Regions from separate parts of the Homo sapiens genome. Here all the other regions are linked to region 2. Evidence: fine-mapped expression QTL. A gene starts in region 2. Each other region holds a variant in brackets. All regions are shown on one strand. Distances are from middle to middle. Region 1 has its middle 18 kb from the start of HS1BP3-IT1. Region 2 holds the start of HS1BP3 (HCLS1 binding protein 3). Region 3 overlaps HS1BP3 (HCLS1 binding protein 3).

The links. PIP is the estimated chance that this variant, and not a neighbour inherited with it, causes the effect.
Region 1: its variant is fine-mapped to the expression of HS1BP3 in whole blood (TOPMed, PIP 0.98).
Region 3: its variant is fine-mapped to the expression of HS1BP3 in whole blood (TOPMed, PIP above 0.99).

What each region holds. Positions count from the first base shown.
Region 1 is chr2:20,606,494-20,614,670 of GRCh38, forward strand. It overlaps a transcript of HS1BP3 not described here and the pseudogene RPS25P3. Among named protein-coding and RNA genes, the nearest start is that of HS1BP3-IT1, 18 kb to the left of the region's middle. RefSeq lists an enhancer at 2,672-3,171. The variant C/T (reference allele first, on the strand shown) is at 4,695.
Region 2 is chr2:20,647,979-20,656,155 of GRCh38, forward strand. It overlaps HS1BP3 (HCLS1 binding protein 3), which reads right to left and starts at 3,120. Exons shown (of 7, transcript NM_022460.4): 1 at 3,054-3,120. The coding sequence starts at 3,085. LOC105373466 (a long non-coding RNA gene) reads left to right here and starts at 3,304. Exons shown (of 2, transcript XR_001739320.2): 1 at 3,304-3,374; 2 at 3,997-4,222. RefSeq lists enhancers at 2,467-2,546, 2,567-2,716, 2,801-3,538 and a silencer at 2,797-3,386.
Region 3 is chr2:20,620,529-20,628,705 of GRCh38, forward strand. HS1BP3 (HCLS1 binding protein 3) reads right to left here. Exons shown (of 7, transcript NM_022460.4): 5 at 4,204-4,364; 6 at 3,368-3,503. Among named protein-coding and RNA genes, the nearest start is that of HS1BP3, 26 kb to the right of the region's middle. The variant C/T (reference allele first, on the strand shown) is at 4,403.

The sequences.
Region 1 (8,177 bases), 41 kb before region 2:
GTAGTTTTGTCAAACAAAACTAAGTTATTGGGCTTGTCCCGAACTATGTCTTTGGAGCACTTCTTCTTTTTGGCCTTGTCCCCGGATTTGCTCACTGGGTCTTTGTCTTTCCTGGCCAACTTTCCAGCGTCTTTCTTCTTCTTCTTGTCCTTGGGTGGCATTGCAAAGCTCAGAGAGCAGCGGTGAACGCTACAGCCTCGCTAAGATGTCAGACAAAAAGACACTGAACATATTTTCATGTGTTTGTTGTCCTTTGTATATTTTCTTTGAATAAATGCCTATGTAAATCCTATGCCAATTTTTAAATTGGGTTATTTGTTGTTGAGTTGTAGGAGTTCTTTATATATTCTAGACACTAGATCCTTAAACGATATATGGTTTGCAAACATTTTGTCCTATTCTTTGTGTTGTCTTTCACTCTCTTGATGTTGTCCTTGGAAGCACAAAAGTTTTTAGTTTCGATAAATTCATCAATTTATCTTTTTATTTTTTTTTGGCCGCTTGTGCTCTTGGTGTCATATCTAATAATCCATGGCCAAATCTCAGGTCATGAAGACTTACCCTATATTTTTATTAAGAGTTTTATAGTAATAGCTCTTATATTTAGGTCTTTGATTTATGTTGAGTTAATTTTTGCATATGGTATGAGGTAGGGTGCAACTTCATTCTTTTTTTTTTTTGAGACAGAGTCTTGCTCCATCGCCCAGGCTGGAGTGCAGTGGTGTGGTCTCAGCTCACTGCAACCTCCACCTCCCAGGTTCAAGCAATTCTCCTGCCTTGGCCTCCTGAGTAGCTGGAGTTACAGACACCCATGACTATGCCCAGCTAATTTTTGTATTTTTAGAAGAGACAGGGTTTCACCATGTTGGCCAGGCTGGTCTCAAACTCCTGACCTCAAGTGATCTGCCCACCTCAGCCTCCCAATGTGCTGGGATTACAGGCATGAGCCACCACACCTGGCCTCTGACTTCATTCTTTTACACGTGGATGTCCCCTCCAATACAATTTCTTGGGAGGCTATTCTGCATGGAATGGTCTTGGCACCCTTGTCATAAATCAAGTGCCACACGTGTATGAGTTTATATCTGGACTCTTAATTCCATCCAGTTGATCTATATGTCTATCCTGTGCCAGTGCCACACTGTTTTGATTACTGTAACTTTGTAGTGACTTTTGAAATTGGGAAGTATAAGTCCTCCAACTTTGCTCTTCTTTTTGAAGATTGCTTTAGCTATTCAGGGTCCCTTGTAATTCCATACAAATTTTAGGATTAGCTTTTCCATTTCTGTAAAAACATCACATTGGGATTTTGATAAGCATGGCATTAAATCTGTAGATCTATTTGGAGATTACTGTCATTTTAACAATATCAAGTCTTCTAATCAATGAACATGGAATGTCTTTTTATTTTCTTAAATTTTATTTAATTTCTTTCAGCGGTGTTACATAGTTTTCAATGTTCAAGTCTTCCCCTCCCTTTGTTAAATTCATTTCTAGTTATTTTATTGTGTTTGGTGCTATTGTAAATTGAATCGTTTTCTTGATTTTCCTTTTGTAGTGTGTATAGAAATATAACTAATTTTGTGTTAATATTGTATCCTTCAACTTTGTCAAATTCATATATTAGCTATAATAGTTTTTTTGTAGATTCTTTAGTATCAGCTACATGTAAGATCATGTCATCTGCAAATAAATGTGGTTCTCCTGCTTATTTTACTATCTAGATGTCTTTTTTTTTTCTTGCCTAGTTTCTCTGGCTAGAACTTCCAGTACAATATTGCATAGAAGTAGCAGAAACAGGCCGGGTGTGGTGGCTCATGCCTGTAATCCCAGCACTTTGGGAGGCCGATGCGGGAGGATCACCTGAGGTTGGGAGTTCGAGACCAGCCTGACCAACATGGTGAAACCCCGTCTCTACTAAAAATACAAAATTAGCTGGCTGTGGTGGTGCATGCCTGTAATCCCAGCTACTTGGGAGACTGAAGCAGGAGAATCTCTTGAACCCGGGAGGTGGAGTTTGCAGTGAGCCATGATTGCACCATTGCACCCCAGCCCGGGCAACAAGAGCGAAACTCCGTCTCAAAAAAAAAAAAAAAAAAAAAAGAAGTAGCAGAAACGGGCATCCTGTCTTGTTCCTGATCTTCGGGCAAAGATTTCTGTCTTTCACCAAGTGTTTTCTTGACTCTCATTGGCTCATCCTCTACTTTCTCCAGGGTGTCCGGCTGTCACCCTTGCTCACTCTGCTGCCCCAAGGAAACCAGTTCTCCAGCCTTTGCCACACTCACATCCTCTAGTCCCCACCTCTGCCCTCCACTTTCTGATTCAGTGCTCTATCTTTCAAACCAAGAGTTTTTTGCGGAGTTCCTATGCCTCACTCCTGTGGCTCCAACTAGTCATGCATCTCTCCTCCCTGGCCCTCTCCCACAGCTCTGAGCATGAAGAGGCCTGAGGCACACTTCATAAATGCTGAGGTCCTGAAAAGCCTAAGAGGTCAGGCTTGCTGAGAAGAGCTATGTCTGAGCCCGCCTGGCTACAGGGAAAACAAACCCCAAAACCTTGTTGGCCTGATTGGCAGGAGCCCAGAGAGAACTGATGCCCATCCAAGAAACACAGGTGTTCAAGGGCCCCTGCTCTGTGGCTCTCCACCCATGGGTAGCTGCAGGATGAGCACCGTCCTTGGGGGCAGAGGCCGCCAGGCGCTGCATCAGGATCCTGGCCTGCTGCTCTAATAGTGCCTGTGAGAAGTCAGGTTCTCAGGGCTCTAGTCCTCGCTCTCTGCCACATGAGAACCCACAGCAGCCTTCCTGCATCCCAGCAAAGGACCATGCACTCCCCAAGCCAAAGGGGTCCTGGTGGAGACCTTCAGTAAGATTGCCACTTCAAAGCCGTTCCAGGGGCCCGGGGGGACCTCTGAGCTCTCCTCCAGGAAAAGGCCTGTTCTCGTGAGGCCTGTTGTAGCTCAGCTCTTGGAGCCTTCTCTAGGGAGCACATTGAACAGTTTTCCGAATACTGAGGCTCCTCTTGGCTTCATTCCAGGAGTGGGGGAGAGGAGGGAAGGCTGGGCTGAGCCGCTCTGTGGATTTGCTCAGCTGTGTGTCATCCCATACTGTGCCAGTAGGCCCTGAGCCACCATGCAGTTAATTCTCCCCATTCACCTGTCCAGGACAACACAGGGTAACTAGAGGAAGAAAAAGAAAAGCTGGAAATCGTACAGAGGAGGAGAGAGATGCTGTCAAGGAACAAAGGCCAGTTGGTGCCAGGACTTCCAGGCCAATTGAGGATTCTGACCCCTCATTGCTCCAGAGGACTCTGGAGGTGTCCTTTCCCTCAGAGGGTGCCCCCAGCCCCTTGACTCAGTTTTTCCCATTTACTGGACTGGAAACCCCTCCCACCATCAGTGAAACGTTTGCTAAGCCTCACTTGGAGCCCAGGTACCCTGGGGACTGTGGGGGCTATCACCAAAGGTGGGGCATGGTCTGGGGATACCAGGTATCTTGGGGCAGCAGGCATCTTCTACTTCATGAGCTTCCTCCCTGTGGTTCCTTTTTTATTTTTAAGTAGATTTTTTTTAAAGAGCAGTTTTAGGTTCACAGCACAATTGAACAGAGAGTACAAAGTCCCCACATGCCTCCTGCCCCCACACATGCACAGCCTCGCCCACCAGCAACAGCCTGCACCAGAGTGGGACATTTACCAGTGAACCTACATGGACACATGGACGCCTCCTTATCACCCAGAGCCATAGCATACATTAGGGTTCACTCTTGGTGCGGTGCATTCTGTAGGTTTAAACTAATGAATAATGCCACGGATCCACCATGAGAGTATCATACAGATAAGTTTTTGCCCTAAAAATCCTCTGTGCTCCTCCTATTCATCCCTCTCTTCCCCTTGAACCCCAGAAACCACTGATCTTTTTATGGTCTCTGTGGTTTTGCTTTTTCCAGGTCAGATAGCTGGAATCATACAACATATATATCCTTTTCAGATTGCCTTCTTTCACTTAGTAATAGGCATTTAAGTTTCCTCCATATCTTTTCATGGCTCGATAGCACATTTCTTTTTAGCACTGAATTAAATGCTCAGTGGAATCATCACCTGGATATACTGCAGTCTGTTTACTCATTCACCTACCAAAGGACATCTTGGTTGCTCCCAAGTCTTGGTAATTGTGAATCAAGCTGCTATAAGCATCCATGTACAGATTTTTGTGAGGACATAAGTTTTAACTCCTTTGGGTAAATACCAAGGAGCACAAATGCTGGAGAGTATGGTAAGAGTATGTTCAGTTTTGTACTGTGGTTTCCACAGGTATATTGAGATATAATTCGCGTATAATCAAATGTTCCCATTTTAAGTGCACAGTTTGATGAGTTTTGGTGAACGTTTATAGTCATGCTCACAGCGTAGCACACTTCCATCACTCCCAAAAGCTGCCTCATGGCCCCTTGCAGCCAACCACTCCTGTCCTGCCCATCCCCAGCCCCTGGCAACCATGGGTCTGCTTTCTGTCACTACAATTTTGCCTTTTCTAGGGTTTCATATATGTGGGATCATACAAGATATAGTTTTGGGGTCTGGCTTCTTTCACTTAGCATGTTTGTGATATCCATTGTGGTATGTCTGTTAGAGGGTTTTTCCTTTTTGACGCTGCACAGCATTCCGCTGCATCCATGTGCCACTGTTTGCTTGTT[C/T]ATTGACCGTTTGTTTGATGGATATTTGGGTTGTTTCCTTTGGGGGAGGAACCCTTATGAATAATGTTGCTGTGAACATTCGTGTCTAAGTCTTTGTGTGTGTGGCTTCTTTTCGAAGGAAGGGGGAACGCTGGCTCACTCCCTCCCAAAGTGATTGAGGGTTGATAAGGAAGCTGGGAAATCCCAAGGGGTAAAGAGAAAGGGATACAGGCCAGCCTGACCATGGGCCGCTGGGACTGCCAGAAACCTCTCTCCACTTGACCACATCGTGCGCAAAGTTCAGGGACCAGGAGAGGGAAACCGATGTGTTTACTTCCTGTCTCCATGGTGCTGGGAGAGCTGTTGTTGCTCTGAGTGTGGGGTGAGCTGGAATGTACTCCCCGCTGCCGCAGTCCTGTTGACATTATTCCTTGTCAGAATGGCTCATTTCCAGTTCGTTCCATCTACCCTCCCTTTGGTAGACCTCCATGACCCACCTGGATCCAGTCCCCAGTCACATACCAGGGCCCCCTGGACACAGGGTCCCTCAATCCCAGGGCCCCTTTCTGGGTCTCCAGTGGTTTTGTATGTGCCCATTCCCATGCCCCCCACCCCACGGTGAGGCAGCAGAAGCAGGCCATCACCCTGCTCAGCAGCGTGGGGTTCAGAGAAGCTGAGAGATGGCAGAGGGTGGCACAGCCTCCTCCCGCACCTACAACCACCCTCCATGGAGAGCAAGCCATCAGCACCCCTTTCCACGAAGATGTCTGGTGTTCACTCTCAGATGAAGAGAGGGAGTACTCAAACTCTAGGATTCCTCATAGCCCAATAGACAGCAGCTTAACAGAATTTCAACAGAATGTTAATTACACACATATAATGAATACTATGCATCAGGTATTGTTCAAATAACTTTACAAATATTAACTCATTTAGCCTTATACTACCCTAATGAGGCAGGTAAAATTATTACCCCCATTTTATAGAGGAGGAAATTGGGGCACAGAGAGGTTAAGTAACTGGCCCAGGGTCACACAGCCAGGAAGCCCAAAAGCCAGGAGTTGGCTCACATTTTTAATCTCTGCACTCTGCTGCCTATGGATTTGTTGGTTTCCTTCTTTTTCCAATCATTAAATTATCCTAACAGTTTTATTGAGATATAATTTATATACCGTAAACATCACCCATTTTAAGTGTACAATTGAACAATTTTAGTAAACTTATCAAATTGTGCAACCATCACAACAAGCCAACTTTAGAGCATTTCTATCACCCTGGGAAAGATTCTTTGTGCCCTTTTGCAGTCACTGTTAGTTCCAACCTCTGCTTGAAGCAACCATTAATCTTTCTGTCTCTGTAGATTTGTCCTGGAAATTTCCTATACATAGAATCATACAATACGTGGTCTTTTGAGTCTAGCTTCTGTCACTTAACATGATGTATTTGAGGTAGATCCATATTGCAGCATGTATCACTCCATTCGTTTTTGTGATCTAATAATATTCCATTATATGGATTTACTGCATTTAGTTTATCCATTCACCAGCCGAGAGGCTTTTCCATTGTTTCCACTTTTTGGCTGTGATAAATAAAGCTGCTATGAACATCTGTGTACAAGCCTTTGACTGGACATATATTTCTCTTTCTCTTTAGGTATATGCCTAGGAGTGGAATTGCTGATTTGTGTGGTACATTTATGTTTACTTGTTGTAAAAACTGCTAAATCTATTTCCCAAAGTGCTGCACCATTTTCCATTCCACAGCCATGGATTTTATAGACTGTGAGGTCCCGATGCAAATCCTAGGGCCACCCATACAAGCAGACAGAGCCCAATTTAGGGTCCTGGAACCAACCTAGGTGTAAAATGAAGCCATCTGGGGATGGGGGGGACTGAGTCAAGCTCAGCCTCTCTGCAGCTTCTGATGTCTGAGAAACAGGTGGGCAAGAAATCAGCTGTTCTACTTTCTAATCCAGAAAAACATTGCCCTCTGGGACCTAGAGCACTTGTTAGGGGAAAATCAGCAAAGTGGCGATAACACCAAAAGGAAAAACAGAAACACACTGTGGAGACGTCAAGGGCGATCTCAGCAAAGGAAGAAAACCAGCTTGAGAAGGCAGCAGTAAAGGCAGTTGGCCTGCAGCTCCCATGCTCCGGAAGCCTTTAGTTCCCACTGCCAGCATCCTCAGAGCCCTTTCCGACTACCTCGGAGGCCAGCGAGAGGATAATGGGGTGATGGCAAGGGGGAGCCCCAGGACTCAGCTGCCTATGGCTCTGAACAGACAGTGCTGGTCCAGCCAGGGAAGGCCTTCTCCAGAGGGGCACTGCTGGAGGAAGGAAGGAAGGAACGCCGCTGCCCGCCTGCCAGCCAGGATAGCTCTGAGTGTCACCAGCTCTCCAGTTTGTGCCACATGTTATCTAAGGAGTCATTTCACTATTTAATAAAGAGATCCAGCTTTTGATAGAGAGAATTTGACATGTCTGGCAGCAGCTGCAAAGGACAGAACTTTATAATGATGGCCCGTGGTGGGTGTCTACACACACAACTGCCTGCCCAGCTTCCTCCTGACACGTCCCCTCACATGGGAGTGAAACCGACATGGCACTGCTGAAACACACAGAGTACACAGGGATGGCACAGGGGGCATGCCTTGCAGAATGGAATGGGCCTCTGCTTGCTGCTGAATGCCACGTGCTCAGGACAGGTGGTAACTGTACTGGGTCGAATTGCGTCCCTTCAAATTCATGTCCACAAGGACGCTGTGAAGGTGCTCCTATTTGGAAATAGGGCCTTTGCAGGTATAATTAAAGGGAAATGAGGTCATATCAGATTACAGTGGGCCGTAATCCAATGACTGGTATTCTTTCCTATAAGAGGGAAATTTGGGCACAGACACAGAGAAGACACCGTGTGAAGACACAGACACAGAGGAGAGAAACTCATATGAAGACAAAGGCAGAGGCTGGGGTGATACAGCTATAAACCAAGGGACCCCAAGTGTTGCCAGGAAACCCCCAGAAGCCAGGACAAAACAAAGTAGGATCCTTCCCTAGAGATTTCAGAGGGACCATGGCCCTACTAACACCTTGATTTTAGACTCGTGACCCCCAGAACTGTGAGATAATACATTCCTGTGGTTTAAAGCCACCCAGTTTATGGTGCTTTGCCAAGGCAGCTCCAGGAAATGGAACAAAAGCTGAGCCCAGGCTGCAGGTAACAAACTGTCCATGCTGGCAGGTGGCAGAGGGGGAAGGACAGGCAGAGAGGGCCGCATGGAGGAGGCACCTCCTTTAGTTGTGCCTGAGGTTCAGGCAGAAGGCCCAGAGAACAGAAGTGAAACTAGAGGCTCAGCATGGCTCCTGGTAGAATTGGCTTTAATGGCTCAAGTTTTTTCATCTTTGCTTCCTCCAACTTGCCTGGAACAGGTACTGCACACGGTAGGTGCCCATTACGTGCTTAGTGTTTATGGATGAGCTCTGCATGTGGGAAAACAAACGACATGAT
Region 2 (8,177 bases):
GCCCATCAGCCTGCAGCTGCTCCCTGATAGCTGCCCTCTCCTGGGACTGTAGACAAACTGGCTGGCTGCTCCTAAGGCCAACCTTCTACCAGGGCAGCGGCTCCGAGGCCCTCCCACCTACTGAAGGACATAGCTGCTGCAGCTCACCCCTCTTTTTCGCACCATCGATTTTCCTTCCTTACTGGCCCACGCTTATTAGCATGCAACCATGCTCTGACCACTCATGTAACAAAAGCTGTGCTTTGACCCGACATTCCCCTTGCTCCGTTTCCCTCCTGCCCTTTCCAGCAGAACTCCTCAACAGAGGGCCCCATATTCATGGGTTCCTCTCCTCCTGTTTGATCTTGAACCCTTTCCAGCCAGACTTTGGTCCTCATCATGCAACAAACTGCCCACGCCCAGGTCATCTGCGACCTCCATGTGGTTAAATCCAAAGGTGAATCCTCATTTCTCCTCTGGTCTGACTTGTCAGCAGCAGTGGGCACAGTCAGCCACTCCCCTCCTTCAAGCTCTGCCTTCACTGGTGGCTGGAGCACCCCCTCACTCTTGGTTCTTCTCTGCCCACCCTGGCCACTCTTGCTCAAACAGGAGGAGAGGAACTGCTTTGGATGGTTCCCCTTGATAGCATCCAGAGCACCCTCCTTCTTCCTCTCACTGTACCCCTCCCCAGGTGATCTCATCCAGGCTCCAGGCTTTAAATACCATTTCCGAGCCAATGGCTCCCCAACTCCCATCTTTAGCTCACTCTCCCCTCACAGCCAGCCTCCTTCCAGCTGCAGCTGCCTGACATCCCCACTGGGCTGTCAACGAGCTTCTCAAAACTCACCTGTCTACACAAATGCTGCTTCTACCTCTCCCCAAGCCTGCTAAAGGGCAGCCTCATTCTTCCAGCAGCTTAGGCTGAGAGACTTGCCGTTAGTCTTAACTTCTCTTCTTGTTCTCACACCCCATATCCAAGCATCAGCAAACCTGAAAGCTCAATCTTCAAAATATATCGAGAACCCAAACATTTCTCACCCTCACGGCCGCCATCACCCCGGGCCAAGCCACCACCGGCTCTACATGGAAACCTACAAGCCTGTCCTGAATGCTCAGCTCGGCCACTGCCCATGCTCAGCATAGCAGCCAAAGGATCTCTATAAACCAGAAGTTGGGCCCTATTGCACTTGAAATTAAATCTGATGGCCCCTCCACAGCCTTCTCGGCCTTTCCTGATCATCCTTCACTCCCAAGCTTGCCTCTTCACCGCATCACCTAACACTCTCCCTGGGCTCACTCCACTCCAGCATACCAGCCTCGGGACCCTGGCTCCTGCTGTCCTGTCCTCCCAGTACACACTTTTCCAAGATTTCTTTTTCATGGCTCTCTCCCTCATGGAGCTTGTCCGGGATCTGTCCAGGCGCCACTCCATCAGAAAGATGCCTCTTTACCACACCATAGAAAACAGCATGCATGCCTCCTACCACTCTGTTGCCCCCACTGTTTTGTTTTCCTTCATAGCATGTATCATCCCTGACATGTCGTAGATTTGCCCACTGGGCCTGTGCCCTCATTAAAGCTCTACGAGAGGGACTTGTTTGTCTCCTAGAACTAGGGCCAGTACCCGGTACAGAGAAGGCTCTCGATAAACACCTTCTGGCTGAATTCAAGCTTGAGTGCATGTGGCAATGACATGTGGGAGGAGATCGGGCTGGAAAGAGGAGCTGGGGTGCGACTGGGAAGGGCCGGCCTTGCTGCTGGGCTAAGGCGTTTGGACTCACCCTGCAGGCAAGATCCTTGGGTGTGCTGGTGCCCTCAGCAAGAAATGAGCCTGACTCATGTGGCCTTACCACCGCCAGCGCCCCCACATCTGTTAACAAGCCACGTCCAGGCTGTGCAGCGGGGCAGGGAGGGAAGCCACCCACCCCATCCCAAGCACCCAGCACCAAAGTCACACCCCATCCATCTGCACATGGCTGAGGGGCATATACTACTGACGTTGCTCATGCCTGCCAATCTGAAACCTCCAATTCACAGAAAAGGAAACTGAGGCTTGGTGAGAGGAGGTGACGTAAGTGGCAGTAGGGAAACCTCTTCTGCCCATGAAGATACAACTGTAACCACACTTGATCATGAAAGACCAAGCAGCCTCCGACATCAGGGTTTACAAAAGGAATCATACCTTTCTAGACCTGAAGTCACGGGGAATTCCTGATTACAACTGGAAGATCAACAGTTGGCTGGGTAACACGTTCATTTATGTCATAAATTGGCATCTTAGCCTAAGACTTTGTGTAGGGAGAGCAAGGGTGAAGTGTATGAAAATATTTGAAGTAAATCACTTTACAGCGTTTTAAAGGCGGAAAGAAGTAAAAGCACGTGCCTCCCAGCCTTGCCAGGATCCACCTTGGGCTGGGTCCTCCAGGTCTCGATCAGGGCCGACCCATTCTGCATCCTCCGCCTGGACCCCTCCAAGGCTTTTGCTGTAACTTGCGCTCTCCTGAGCTGCCTCGCAAGCAGCAACGACCTCTCCCTGGTCTCTCATCAAACTCATCCTCCCAGAAACCGGGTTCCTGCCCTGTACTGTGTTCCCATGGCAACCTGAGCTTACTACCCGCTGCTGGCATCACCCCCTCTCCGCTGCAGCCCCCTGCAGGGCGAGCTTGTCTGATTCGCCTCTGTCCCCAGTGCCCAGCACCGGGCCTGGGACTCAGGGAGCTCTGAAAGGATGGGGAACTAGATTTTCGGGCTCAAAAGAGAAGAACCCAAGGCGGTAGGAAAGGAGAGCAGAGTCCCCACTGCGCCCGCCTGCACTGAACCAGTCAGTCCCAGGGCTCCCGCTGTCCTTGGCTAGTTCTCTACCCTCCAGAGGGCCTCGGTTTCCTCATCTGTAAATCGGGGTCGCCACCTCTCCTGCAGGGCGGTGCAGGGGCCCAGCCCGGATAAGCCACCGAGGGCGCTGGGGAGACCTGCACCAGGTCCCTGGCCTAGGAGGCGGCGGCCTCCCCCCGCCTCTCCGCCCGGGCGCCCCGGACTGCGAGCTGTGCGGTGTGGGGCGCGGGGGTCTGGCTCACCTGGAGGTGACGAGCACCGCCGGGGACTGCATGACGGCGGCGGGGACTCCGGGCGGGGCGCGCAGTCACGGGACCCGGCAGTGCCCGCGTCACCGCGTCCCCGCCCTGCCTCCCGCTGCCCTGGCCTGCCCCCTGGTGGCAGCGGCCGCGCAGTTCGCGCCTGTGGCCAGAGGCGGGGCGGAAGCGCGGCTGGGCGGGTCCCGCACGGTCGCCGTCGGCCTGCGCTGCTCGGAGCTTCCGGAGCACCCAGGCTGAGCCGCGCCCGCCGCAACCACCTAGAAGAAGCCCAGCCTGGCCCTGGCACACGGTGAACCTTAATCGGTGTGTCTGTTTTGCGCTAAAGTTTAGCCGTTAGAGAGACGGGACTCTGCTGTTTCCGCCGCCAGTCCCCATTACAAAACCACTCCCCCTCTGCCCCAAGACCATTTCATTCAACCGATCGGTCAACAAATATTTACCAAGCTGGGGCTCTGTCCAGGCTTCGTGGGGTCTTCTTCAAGCTGCACAGTGAACGCCACGCAGCAGCCCAGTCCCCTTGAGCTTGCTGCCTCCAGCTAGCTCGCCTATCTGGTTCCTACTGCCTGCCCGCTCCATAAATGGCAGGCACTCTCCCGACAGGGGATCTTTAGAGAGGCAGCCTCTGCTGCTTGGCAGAGCCCTGGTGGAGGCCTCCCGGGGCCGGGCCTGCCTGGGATGGCTGCACTTGGGTCCCCAGCTGGAGCAGGGCAACGGGGTCCAGGAGCCAGTTCCCCTCAGAAGGGGAACGTACAGACATGCAGACCCTAACAGACCCACTCATTTTAGATTCACCTCTCCATGGGGTGAGGAACAGAGAGATCGTATCACCTGCCAACGTAGCCCAGGGAAAGAAAAGCTGAGTCTGCAAACAGGGCCAGCAGAAGGTGCAAACTGCTGCCCCTGTTCTGTTACTCCCTCCACCCAGAGCCCCAGTGACAAAAAGAAAGAGAAGCTGGGCTTAACTATACCAGAATTCACGGCAGGGCGATGTCAGCCATGTTTCCTGAGCCTATCAACCACCGCCACCAGCATCACCAACAATATCTACCAGTTTTTACAGATTTTAGTGAAGAAATCCTACAGTAAAAGATTTTGAAAAATGACTTTCCCCAATGTATCTCTTGAATAAATACGGACATTGATATGCCTTATTATTTGTCTCAGATTTGTTTATAGGCAAGATGAGCAATCATGAATGAAGTATGACAATGAATGAAAGTTCTGAGGGAGACCCTTGAAGGCTGCAGTGAAGAGCTGGGATGATGGCGGGAACCCCTGTCTGCTCTGCTGCTCATCGGCCTGTCCGTCTGCAGGGCCGTGTTCATGGCTGCAAATGGTCCTCCGTGTTTTGTTTAAATTGGCATGCCCTACTTTAGAGAAAGGGAGTTCAGGGTCTGGACAGAAAGCAGTATAGGCTTCAGCATTCCAGGAGTCTGAGTGTAGTGCCAGGCAGTCGAGCAGTCACCATTGCACTCACATTTATCCAACAGACAGAAACACAGTGAATAAGACACTTTAGATGCCTTCAGTGGACTTCTTTGCCCTCCTACATGGGGAGTGGGTGGGGGTCTGGAAAGGCTTTCTAAAGGAGCTGAAGTCCAAGGGAAAACCTGAAGAAATATGGATAGAATAGATTAGAAGGAATGTCACGTGCAAAGCCCTAGCGACAGGATAGGAACACCAGGGAACAGGGGGAAGAGGCCAGCAGGAGCCAGGGTGTGGACAGCCTAGTGCACCAAGGCCAGGGCTTTGCCTGATCCTGAGGCCAACACAGCGCCATCAGAGGGTCAGGGACATAGGAGTGGCTGGGCCAGCTAGGGCGTGGGCAGGGTTTTGGAGCATGTTGAAGGTATGAAGATGAGCTGGACTGCAGAACAATCCAGACAAGAGACAATGGTCCCATGAACTAGGGTGATGGCCACCCAGGTGGAGAAGAGGGGACGGGTAAGAGGGCCTTAGGAGAAGGAGTTGGTCAAGACTTGGGAATCCAATGGGTGTGGGCGGGAAGAGATAAGATACCACTATGGTTTGGCTCTTGTGAGTGGCTGGACATTGGTATCATTCTCTGTGGCAGGGCACCTGGAGAAGGAGCATATTTTTGGTAGGATGATGGGTTCTGTTTCAGACAGGCAGTGTTTGAAGGGCTGGACCTATTGATGCGATTGGGTTTATGGCCCTGGGCCTCAGGAAGCCGACCTGGGCTGGAGACTGACATAGGAGTCATGGGTAAAAAGGAGGCTGTTGAGCCTGAGAGTTGGGGTGAGCCCACCAAGGATGGTCTACAATCCAGAGATATGCAGCGGTGTTGGGGGGCTGCAGAGAAGGGGACTCTCCATCATTGTGGGAGCTGGTAGCATGTCTGTCACCAATGCCTTGTAAGCAAATGAGAGGGCCTCACCTGTGCCCCTGGGGTTGTGAAGTGTGCACCTCAGGAAGACTCGGCCCACCTGTCAAGAATGCAACTGGTTTCCCATGAAAGAACGACCCCATTCCCAACAGCAATCCCATTTTCTGCCTCTGTGGGTCCCACGTGCCCCTCTATGGCTCCAGCGCGTAATTGTATACAATGCATGGAATGTGGGATCTAAATCTGATATTTTCTGCTTCCTGTTTAATTCAAGGAGCCCCTTCCATGGCTGAAGCTGCGGTAACACAAACCACATTGCAAAGGATTTTCTATTTCTCTCTTTCTCACTGCCCTGGGAGGAACACTCCAGGCCTCAGTTTCCACCCAGGAAGTCACTGGGCCTCAGGACACTGTGGTCACTGAGAGACACCCGCAGCCTGCAGGGGGTGCTCTGAACTCTGGCTGAGCCATGCACCAACGTTTCCCATGGTGGCTCGGGTCTTCTGGGACCTTATAATTTGTCTCTGTTCCCTAATGTGATACTTTAGAGCTCCAGGGTCTGGGCACATCCACATGGAGCAGGGCCACCACCTTGCTTGTCACTCAGCAAACACTCATAGGTACAGCTCCAGGCCTGTTATCTCCCCAGGCCTGGGGGCTACAGAGCCTTATCCTGTGGGGCTCACAGCCCACTGCAGGGGCTCACAGGCCACTCTAGGACAGCTGGAGATTTCAACAAGGATGCACGCCTAGGGTGCTATGGTGCACAGAGGAGGGCACATAACTAACTCAGCCTAGGGTTGGGCATACAAAGAATTCTGCCAGGAGGAGGTGATGGCAGACCTGGGTTGTAAAAAGTAGGTATTATTTTTTTGAGACTTGATTTTCTCACTGGTGAAATGCACGTAACAGAAACCTTTAAATCATAACATTGCTTGAATTACATGAGGTAAAATGAGACTGAAACAAGATGAAATGTATGGCAGGCATTGGTGATGAGCTAACCGGAAGCCATTCACAACCCCCTTCTTCCTGGTTTTTATTACCATAGAGGCTGGAGAAGTAAAACACATGTCCCATTTCAGTTACAAGGGGCCATGTGACATAACTGACCACATATACTTAAGTCCCTGTGGAGGATTTATCTTGCTAGGAGAAAACTCTTCGCTCCTTCCTTGTCTTCTACCTGGGAAGGGGATACAGTGTTGGAGACACAGCAGCCATCATGGGAGCAGGAGGCACAGACATGAGTTTGGAGTCTACCATGTTAGGGATGAACAAGCCTGGGGAGCTGATGGCATATGAGCTTGCATACACGCCCTGGACTTTTTCTACAAAGTTCTCCTTGCATAAATGCCTAAATCACTCTAAGTGGGGGTTTTCTGCAGTGGATTTCCTGTTGGTGTAGTTGTAAAGTACTTACATAATGCCTGACATAAAAACTGCTCCATAGGGGATGCAGGGATGACTGAGGAGGAGGAAGAAAAGAGGTAAAATGTGTACTAGGAAGGCAGCTTGTCTTTTTTTTTTTTTTTTTTTTTTTTTGAGACAGGGTCTCATTCTGTCGCAGTGGCATGATCACAGCTCACTGTAGCCTCAACCTCCTTGGGCTTAGGTGATCCTCCCACCTCAGCCTCCCAAGTAGCTGGGATCACAGGTGTGTGCCACCATGCCCAGCTAATTTTTGTGTTTTTTGTAGAGACAGGGTTTCCCTATGTTGCCCAGACTGGCCTTGAACTCCTGGGCTCGAGCAATCTGCCCTGCTGAGCCTCCCAAAGTGCTAGGATTACAGGTGTGAGCCACCATGCTCAGCCTAGTACGTCTTGATAGAACCAGAGCGTATCTGAGGAGCTGGTGAGAAGAATATGTGGAAGGATTGCTGGGAGAGGAGGCAGCAGAGGGCAAGAGGAGCCTGTGTTCCCGCAGCATAGAGGGCCTTGTGCGCTATGCAAAGGAGCTCACATCTTATCCTGAAGAAGGAGGGAGTGGGCTCACAGAACAAAGGGAAAAGAGTGTTTCAGGAAGAGACTGGGGTGTGATCAGCAATGCCAAACACTGCTGAACATCCAGGAAGATAAGGAGGTGTTCAAGAAAAACAAACAAAAAAACCCCACAGAACTGAACAGTAGTTAAAGTGGTGAAAGCAGATTTTATTTGGGACTACTGCAATAGGGGTAAGAGACCCCAGTATAGAACTAGGCTAAATTCCGAATGCAGCATGAGAAAGTAGGAATTTATAGCCAAGGAACAGGGTGGGAGTGGTGGCTGGAACATTACTAAGACGAGTATGGGGGGACTCTGGCTATGCCGACCTAACAGGATTCTTGCTGAAGATGGGCCAGGATGGTCAGACATCACCTGGGGATGGTGGAGGAGGGGGAACCCAGTTGGATATCGAGGGTGATCAGATAGGCAGGGTGGGAGGATGTTGGTAACCTGACTTAGCCACGTTCTTCCTAAAACTGGATTTTACAAGGAAGTGCATGCATAGGTCTAAGAGAAGGTTCAGGAGCTCAAAGCTCAGTTTGGTCAAGAAGAGAATCTTTGAAGAGAGAAAAGTGTTCTCTGGCCTCGAGGAGGGCAGTGTCCCAGTGGGTGGAGGAGGGGACAGGAGGTGGGAAGGGGAGAAGGGAGTAGGGCCCCCTCTTCCAGAGGGGGACAAGCAGACAATTTTTGGAACCATTCTGTAGAAATAATTCATGCTCATGGTAGAAAAGCTGGAAAATAGGGATAGTAAAATTAAAAAATAAAAATCGCCT
Region 3 (8,177 bases), 27 kb before region 2:
GCAGGAGTAACAGTGTCACTGGCACTGCTGCACGGAACTGTACACAGAAGCACAGCACTGCAGGAGGAGAACTGGCTTCCGTTCCTCACCCTGCAACTCCTCCATCAGGCAGCCTCAGGCCACTCCTCCTCCCTGGTCCTCAGTCTCTTCTATAAAGTGGGATTGTACTTGCTCTACCATCCTCACAGGGATTCTTACAAGGATCAAATAAGACAACACAAGGAAAGTAGTTTCCAAATGTACAGGAAGGCTGTATGTACTGATGTCTACTGACAGCCACAGGGGCTGAGCAAGTGGGCATAAGACACAGAAAAGCAGTGCCTCCACCTACAATGAGGGACACCCCCCAGCCCAGTCAGACAGGGGCCACATAATTGCAAAGGCCTGGAAAGAAGGTGTTGAAGTCCAGAGAAGGGAGTGAGCCCTTGGGCCAGAGCAGGCTGGGAAGGCCTCCTGGGAAGGTGGGTCTTTTCAGAAGGGTGAGCCTGGCATGAATAGGGGAGAGAATTCTGAAGAAGGGAGCAGACAGCAGAGGTCTGGAGGTGGGAATGAGAATGAACAGGAAGAACCAGGCAGGCTCATGAGCAGCGGCTTCTTGCCCTGGGGCAGGGCCGGGCAGGGGTGGGGATAGAGAGGCGATACCTCTGATCAGGACAACTCCTGGCACTACCAGAGAGCCTGTGTGAGTATGGAGGTGTCCAGCACAGCACCCCCAGGGGTGGATGCCTGCCTGGAGCCAGCTGTGGAAGGAGCTCCGGACACCCTGCCTGCTTCCTGGCTCAACCTCCTGTGATGGGGCACAAACCCCAGAGAGAGAATTCAGAGTCTGTTTGGATGGCAGAGAAATGAATAAAAGGTGTCCTTCTTGAACAAACCCAGAGGGACTGGCCCAAGCCGGGCCTTCATAGACAGACCAGCTGTCTTGGGGTAGAGGTGATTTCAGGAGGTGTCACTCATGGCCAGTCTGCTCCTGGCCACCTCAGGTCAGATGTTCCGGAGCTCCCTCCAAGTGGCAGCCCTTCCTTGACTCCCCCAGGGCAGGTGCCAGCTCCACTGGCATGATGCAGCCTCCATTGAAGGCTGAGGGTACCTGGGAAAAGCTCAAAGGGACTGAATTATCCTCAAATAGGGGCCCTTTGGAAAATAAAGCAGCCGCTAGAGGCTTATGTCAGATTTCAGGATTAGCCTGCTTGGCAAAGCAGTGACTCTTTGGAACTAATCAGCAGCTGGATTTGCTCCCAGGTGGGTGGTGTACACGGGTGGTCAGCCACGGTGGGAGGCAGCATAGCTGCTCTTGGGACACAGGAGGCTGCAAGGCACCCCTTTTCCAAGCACCCTATTTCTGAGTCATGACTAGGACTAGCTCTCACTAGCGCAAGGTCCAGCTCTTTTCTCCTCCAGGCCCAGCTGGTGTGAGGTCAACCAGTGGGGGGTAAGGGAGCTCTAAGACCCTGGCCCCATTCCTTCTCCCTGGGTTCCTGCGGAAGACAAGACTCACCTAAACATCTAGACTAGAGGCCCTGCCCTGGTGTGGCTGCACAGCCAGAAGGAACAAAGCCTTCTTAGCCTCGACCCGCTCAGTGTACACCCCACGCGGCCTCAGGGTGGCTGAGGCTAGTGACAGAATGAACGAAGGGGTGAAAGCATGAATGAATGAATGGCTATCAGAACATTCTTTATTATGAGGAAGTCCAACTACTCCCTGGATAGTCACAGGGCAGACACAAAGAATGAATGTGGTTCCTGCTCTCAAGAAGCTAATCCCAGTGTTACGGCTCTTTTTGAATTTGTCTGAATTTAAAAAAAAGAAAAGCAGTTAATCCTTTCATTAGCAGATGTCTGCTAAAGTGAAGGTGGGGGTGCGGGACCCACACTTTTTGAGCAGGGACTCCCCAAGCGCTCTGCGGGATGCTAAGGGGCACCACAGAGTGGGGGGCCCAGGGATGAATGAGAACGTGAAGTGCCATGTGGTGCTGGCCCGCGCACTACGAGCCCTGCTTTTTGTGGCATTTCCCCAATTCATCAGCCACAGAGCCCCTTTGAAGATAGCCTTTGACCACCCCACTGTACCACGTTCTGCAGAACACAGGTTGGGAAGTAACGGATTTAGAATAAACTAGGCCAGAAAGGTCCCACGAGAGCCACCCCACTGGGACACATGGACTCCTAGACATGCTCGGCCTGGCCCTGCTGCTCCGCAGGCAGACTCTAGTATTTCATTTCCCTGTGCCTCGGTTTCCCTCTAATAAAATAACAATCCTGGTTTCTTCCAGCCCGCTGGGATGTCAGGAGCGAGGACACAGGATGAGAGTGAACAGATGCCAGGGGCCTTGGGGACATGTAAATACCAGAAGCCGTCACGGTGACTCAGGCTTGGCGGGCACTTGCAGGGCTGTCTAATAGCCCGAGGCTGCTAATGAGGGGTACAGATGACAGCCTCCAGGGCCTGCATGCCTTGGTGTCACATAAGCCGTTCCTGGAAAGAGGCGGCCTGGCTTCCTCTGAATCCCAGGCACAGTCCTGTGTCCTGGAGCATGGAGTGGGAGCTGGAGACACGCACAACACTGAGTCTGCTGAGAATGTGGCCAGTGGAGGTAAAGGCCTGGGGAGAACTGGGGGGCTGGGTGGGGAGGCAGATCACCCAGCCAAGTGCTCAGACAGTCCCTGATGAAGTGGAGAGGCCAGGCCAGGGGCAGAGCAGGGGTCTTAGCCAGGTGGCGTCCCACACTTGATTTCTTATAATATGGAGAAAATAGCATCCACCTTAGGGGGCTGTCGTGAAGATTACATAAGAGAGCGTGTAAGGAGTCTGGCTTACTGCGTACACAGCAAGGACTCAGGAAATAGGAGCTGTCACCGGCACAGGTTCTGCCAATTGACCTCCATGTGACAGCTGAGGCCTCATTCTCCCTTCCTTCTGTGAAAGCTGCCGACCGGGCCCTCCGGCAGAGAGGCCATCACCAAGACATCTGCACTTTGCCCCCTCGCTGGGTGGGCTGCATGCTGCCATGAGTCCGTTTAATTTGTTCCCAAACTTGCTTATGCCAGTTATACCTGCTCTTGCAATTATATAATTTAATTATTCTTTACATAAACTGTTAAAATATGATTGTGAAAAGAAAGACTGGTTGTGCACACAAAGTTCTCTCTTTCTGGAACTAGCTGAGCAGCCCTGGGCTGCGGATCCTCCCCCTCAGCCCCCTTCACCGCCTCTCACCCAATGTGCACCCACAGGCTTCTACTTTTCACAGGCCTGGGGTCCTCCCCTCAGAGGAGGCTGGGGCTGAGACTGGGCAATGAGCCGGGCCCTTGGCTCTGTCCAGAACACTCTCAGAGCTGGCCAAGCGCCGCTGGGGACAGGTGGTACCTGAACAGTTCCTTGGAGGCGTCCCTGTGGCTGAGGCTGGGTGTGGGCCCTCCACTCTCACAGGCGGCTGGCAGCAGGAGGGAGTCACCCAGGGGGATGGCCCCGCCGAGGTCAGGATCATCAAATAGCTTCAGGGCTGTGGGAAGGCAGCAGCAGGGGGGTCAGAGGAAGCCTCTAGGCTGGGATGCCATGGCTGCTCTCTCTCTGCCCCACCCCAGGAAGTCTTCTGGGCAGTCCTACAGGAATTGATGCCTCTGCTCAACCTGTCATAACTGGTGCTGCTTTGTAACTGTCAGGCAATGACCTGTCTCCCCAGGGGCCCCCGGGGCCCTCGGGATAGGGACTAGGGACAGGGACTAGGTCTCACTCCTCAGCATGTTCTTGGGCCTGGCCCTCAGTGAGGGCTCACCAAGTATGGGCTGAATTAGTGGGTGGCATCAATTCCCCTCACCGGAGGACGACCTGGGCATGTGAGGAAAGGGACCAAGGGATGAGTGGAGATGTCCCAAGGCCGCTCGGTTTTCCCTCTGCCAACTCTGCACAGAGCCCTCCAGCAGAGTCCATGCAGGCGACACAGAGTCCCATTAAATCCAAACCTACAGTCACACATGTGCCCTAGGCAGGCCCTATCGCTTACCACACAAACAGTGCCTGGAAGCCCAGGGCCCACATCTGCCCACAGATGTCATGGAAGCACAAAGCTGAGTCTATATCACATCTAAACAGGACAGGGGAGATATATGGGTCCTATTCACGCCGGGTGAGTCCAGACCCTGCCTGGTGATGGGGCTGGGCACCGAGAGGACACCAGGAGCAGACCATGGGGCTCTACTTACGGTCCACGGATGACACGTCCTCCGAGGGGTCCTGTGGAGACAGCTTCCTGCCCGGGCCAAAGAGCCCCTCATCAGGGTCCACCTCCTCGTCAAAGATGGTGAGCCGGGGCGAGGGCTTGGCTTTCACGGCCACTTTGGGATGTTTCTTGGGCTTCTTGGAGCTGGAGAATCACAGACAAAGCACAAGGTGAGGATTTCC[C/T]ACAAGTGTCCAGGTGGTCCGGTCAGACCGACACAGGCGCTGGGCCCTGCAGTGGAGGGGCTGGATGCCATGGGCCAGAAAAGACCAGGCCAGAGGGACCAGGGAAGTCCTGGAGGGGGCCACCCAGAGCAGTCCAGGCAGGTGGAGCTGAAGTCTTTCTGAAATCTCTAACAGATGGTCACACGGCCAAGGGAAGGACAGGTCCTCCATCCCAGGGGAGAAAAGCAGGCCAGCGAAGGTGGTTGAGAAGCAGGTTTCCCCAATGACAGAGTGGTAAGGCCCCCGCTACTGTGGGCAGCTGTGCCCTGTGTTCAAGAAATGACCACTGTCAGGAGGAGCAGGCGGCTGCCAGGACCGGGCACCAGCTGCCAGACAACCCCAGCTCTTAGACGCCTTCAGGCCTTGAGTCTGCCATGCGGTCACAGGCCAGAGATCACACTCCCATTCGGAAGGTAGAGACAGCTGCCTGGTCTCAGGGTCTCAGCACTTGGGGGCCAGGCTCAGAGAACCACACTCCACAGCCACTCAGAAATGGGGATGGACCTGGTCTTGAGCCACAAACCTCAGGGCTAGGACTCAGGAGGGCAGAAAGCAGCTTTGGTAAGTGCCTTATTGTTTCCTTTGCATGGTAAAACCACCATTGTTCTAGTTAACACTTGGGTTCTGTGGAGCAGCCCCCCTCTTTCAGGAAGCCTCTCTGGGACTTGCCCACCTCCCCGGCTCCGACTCTGCCACCCCAGGTCCCATTACAGTGCACTTGCCGACTGGCTGAGGAGGTCCTGCTCTGGGCCAGACCCTGCTGTAAGAAACCAGGACGGGGCAGGATGGAAGCTTCTGGGGTGTAGGAGTACTTTAGTTTTGATCCAGGCGGTAGTTACGGGCTGGATAAGTAAACACGCATGGAGCTGAATGCTCAGGATCTGTGTACGTCACTGTAAGTGATACCGCCAGTAAGTAAACACACTTGATTTTACTTTAATAATTACTTTAACAGGCATTCAATCCCTGCTGATGATGTCTATTAGCCATTTTAAGGTTCCTGAAAATAATGAGAATATGCTCTTTACTGGAAACTGAAATTCCGTGTGCCTGTCCGCCTGGCGGGCAGTTCCACTGGACTGAGGTCACTATGTGAGGTCACCATCTGAGCTCATGTTGGTAACACGCTGCGGCAAAACTGCACCGAGAGGCTGGCCTACACAATGATACAGATTAACCAATGGCAGATAAAAATAGCAGAATGGCCCTGGGTGCTGGAGGGGCAGGTCCCCGCAAGGTGACCATTCCCACAGTCTGGAGTCTGAGGTCTGGCAGAATCCCAGGCACCCAGCCGAGGCGAGGAGAAACTATGAAAGCCAGGAAGGCTCCCTGCTGGAAGGTTCCCTGCTGGAAGGCTGCAGGACAGAGCATCCTCTGAGCTCAGAGCCCAGTCCCAGGGGAAGGATCTCTGCAGGGCTCGTTTGTTGGATGAGGAAACAGTGGTCCAGAGAAGCTGAGTGTCTGCCCAAGGCCACACAGCAGGGAAGGGACAGGCAGGCTGGGTCTAGATTGAGGATGGTCATACTCATGGTCCTATCCTCTTGTCCCCTCCAAATGTCCCATGAGGAAGGTGATATAGGATGGCGCAGGGATAACAGGATTGATCCTGCTGTTCTCTGGGGAGAAAGTGGCATGTTTCAAGGGTAGTGATGGGGAGCAGAGACGCAGTGGCAGGGACTGCTCCAAGAAGGCCCATCTGCCTGGTCCTGTGCTTTCTCCACCCAGCTCAGGCCATGAGGGACCTCCTCTGCTGTGCACCACCCTCAGGCCCTGCTTGTGGTGCTGGAGGTGAGGTGGAGGGAGCCTCGATTCTCCACCCTAAGGGCAAGTGCTTTCCAGAAATCTTCAGCTTCTGCTCCTCTGAGACCTGGAGGAGCCAGGGCTCGCCTGCTCTTACTCAGACATTCTCCCCTTTATTCTTACCAATCAGGCAGAGCCAGCTCGGCTCTCATGACTCCTAGGAAGTGGGTACCAAACAAGGGCCATGGCCTCCTGGGGCAGACAGCAAAGCTGACCCCAGCCAAGACCCACTGAGTCGGAAACCCCAAGCAGGCCCAGGAGGCTGTGTTCAGTCTCCTGTGGAATTCCACGGTCAGCCAGGCTCGCAGCCACTGTTCTGCCCGATGCTTCTCTCCCCTTCATTCCCCATCTCTGCCGCCCTTTGCGTGGCCCTTGCTCCTGGCCCCAGCAGGCACTGCGGTGGGGAAGGGTGGAGAGCCACCCCGGCCCCTACCCAGGTGGCAGCTCTCAGGGAGGGCAGGTCTGAGGCTGCTCTGCAGCCTCCCCCAGCAGCAGCTCCATGCCACACCCCACACTGTCTGCTCAGAAACAAGCAGGCCCTCCCTGGCTCCTGGGGATTGAACTTGCATGTAACCAGCCACGGGCCCCTCGGGGCAGGGGAGCAAGAGGCTTTGCATTGACCAGAAATCAGAGGGCGCAGAGAGGGAAGCGAGCCATCTGAGGAACAAGGGAAGCGAGAGAGAACAGGCGCGAGGAGGTCTCTCTGGAGAAGCCGTGGTGCCCCTTCCTACGCCTGCACCTGGTCTGGACAGCACACAAGAGGCCTAACTTTCCTTCCATGTGAGTTTTCTCCTCCAACTGGATCATGTCCTTGTTTTTCTCCCTAGAGACATGTTTGCCCTTTTGTTGTCCTGAACTGAAATAAAGTGGATCTACAGCACACGCGGGCGGCTCCAGCAGGCATGGTCTGTACCCTACCCCCACCCACCCATGCTGCCTGGGCTGCCTTCTCTACCTCCCCAACTCTCTAGACCCATCTTCAGGGGAATCAAGGAAGAAGCAGGAAATATGGAGTTTTGGTGCCTAAAAGCCCCAGGGTCCTATCCTGAGCGGCCCAAAACTTTCAGCCTCTGGGGGCTTAGTAATGTGCCTGGTCCATAACAGATGCCTTGATAAACTCTGGATGAGAGGATGCGCGATGGATGGAGGGGAGGAGGGATGGACAGGTGGAGGACAGGTAGGCAGGGAGCAGGGTGCCAGCACATCTCCATCTCAGGATTCTGTTAATCCCCAAGGCGGGAGGGGCAGGGAGGGAAGAGGGATAGGCTCCCAACCCCAGTCTCAGACAGCGCCCTATGTGCGAAAGCCCCTCCTCCGAAGATCTCCTGGCCGACTCCACTGGGCTTGCCACCAGGCCCTCAGCCACTCTATGAGCAACTCATTCCTTCCCTCGTGGGCACCTTTGATGGCGAGCACTCACTGAGAACCTCCCACCTGCAAGAACCTGTGCTGGGGACGAGGGAACAAAGATGAGGACGAGCCGCCGCTGTCCCCAGAAGCTCATGGCAGAGCAGGGTCACATAGAAACTGATCATTATGGCCGAGTGAGGTGGCTTATGCCTGTAATCCCAGCACTTTCGGAGGCTGAGGTGGGTGAATTTAAGAATAAAATATGAAAAGTGCTTTAGTTTAAAGCAAAAAGTTTACGGGAGGCCAGGAGTTTGAGACCAGCCTGGCAAAGATGATGAAATCCCATCTCTACTAAAAATACAAAAATTAGCGTAGCATGGTGGTGCATGCCTGTAATCCCAGCTACTCGGGAGGCTGAGGCATAAGAATCGCTTGAACCCCAGGGATGTAGGTTGCAGTGAGCTCACATCACACCACTGCACTCCAGCCTGGGTGACAAAGTGAGACTTTGTCTCAAAAAAAAAAAAAGGAAACTGTTCATTAGCACACAGGGTGTTCCGCTCTGTCACGGCAGAGCACAGAGGAC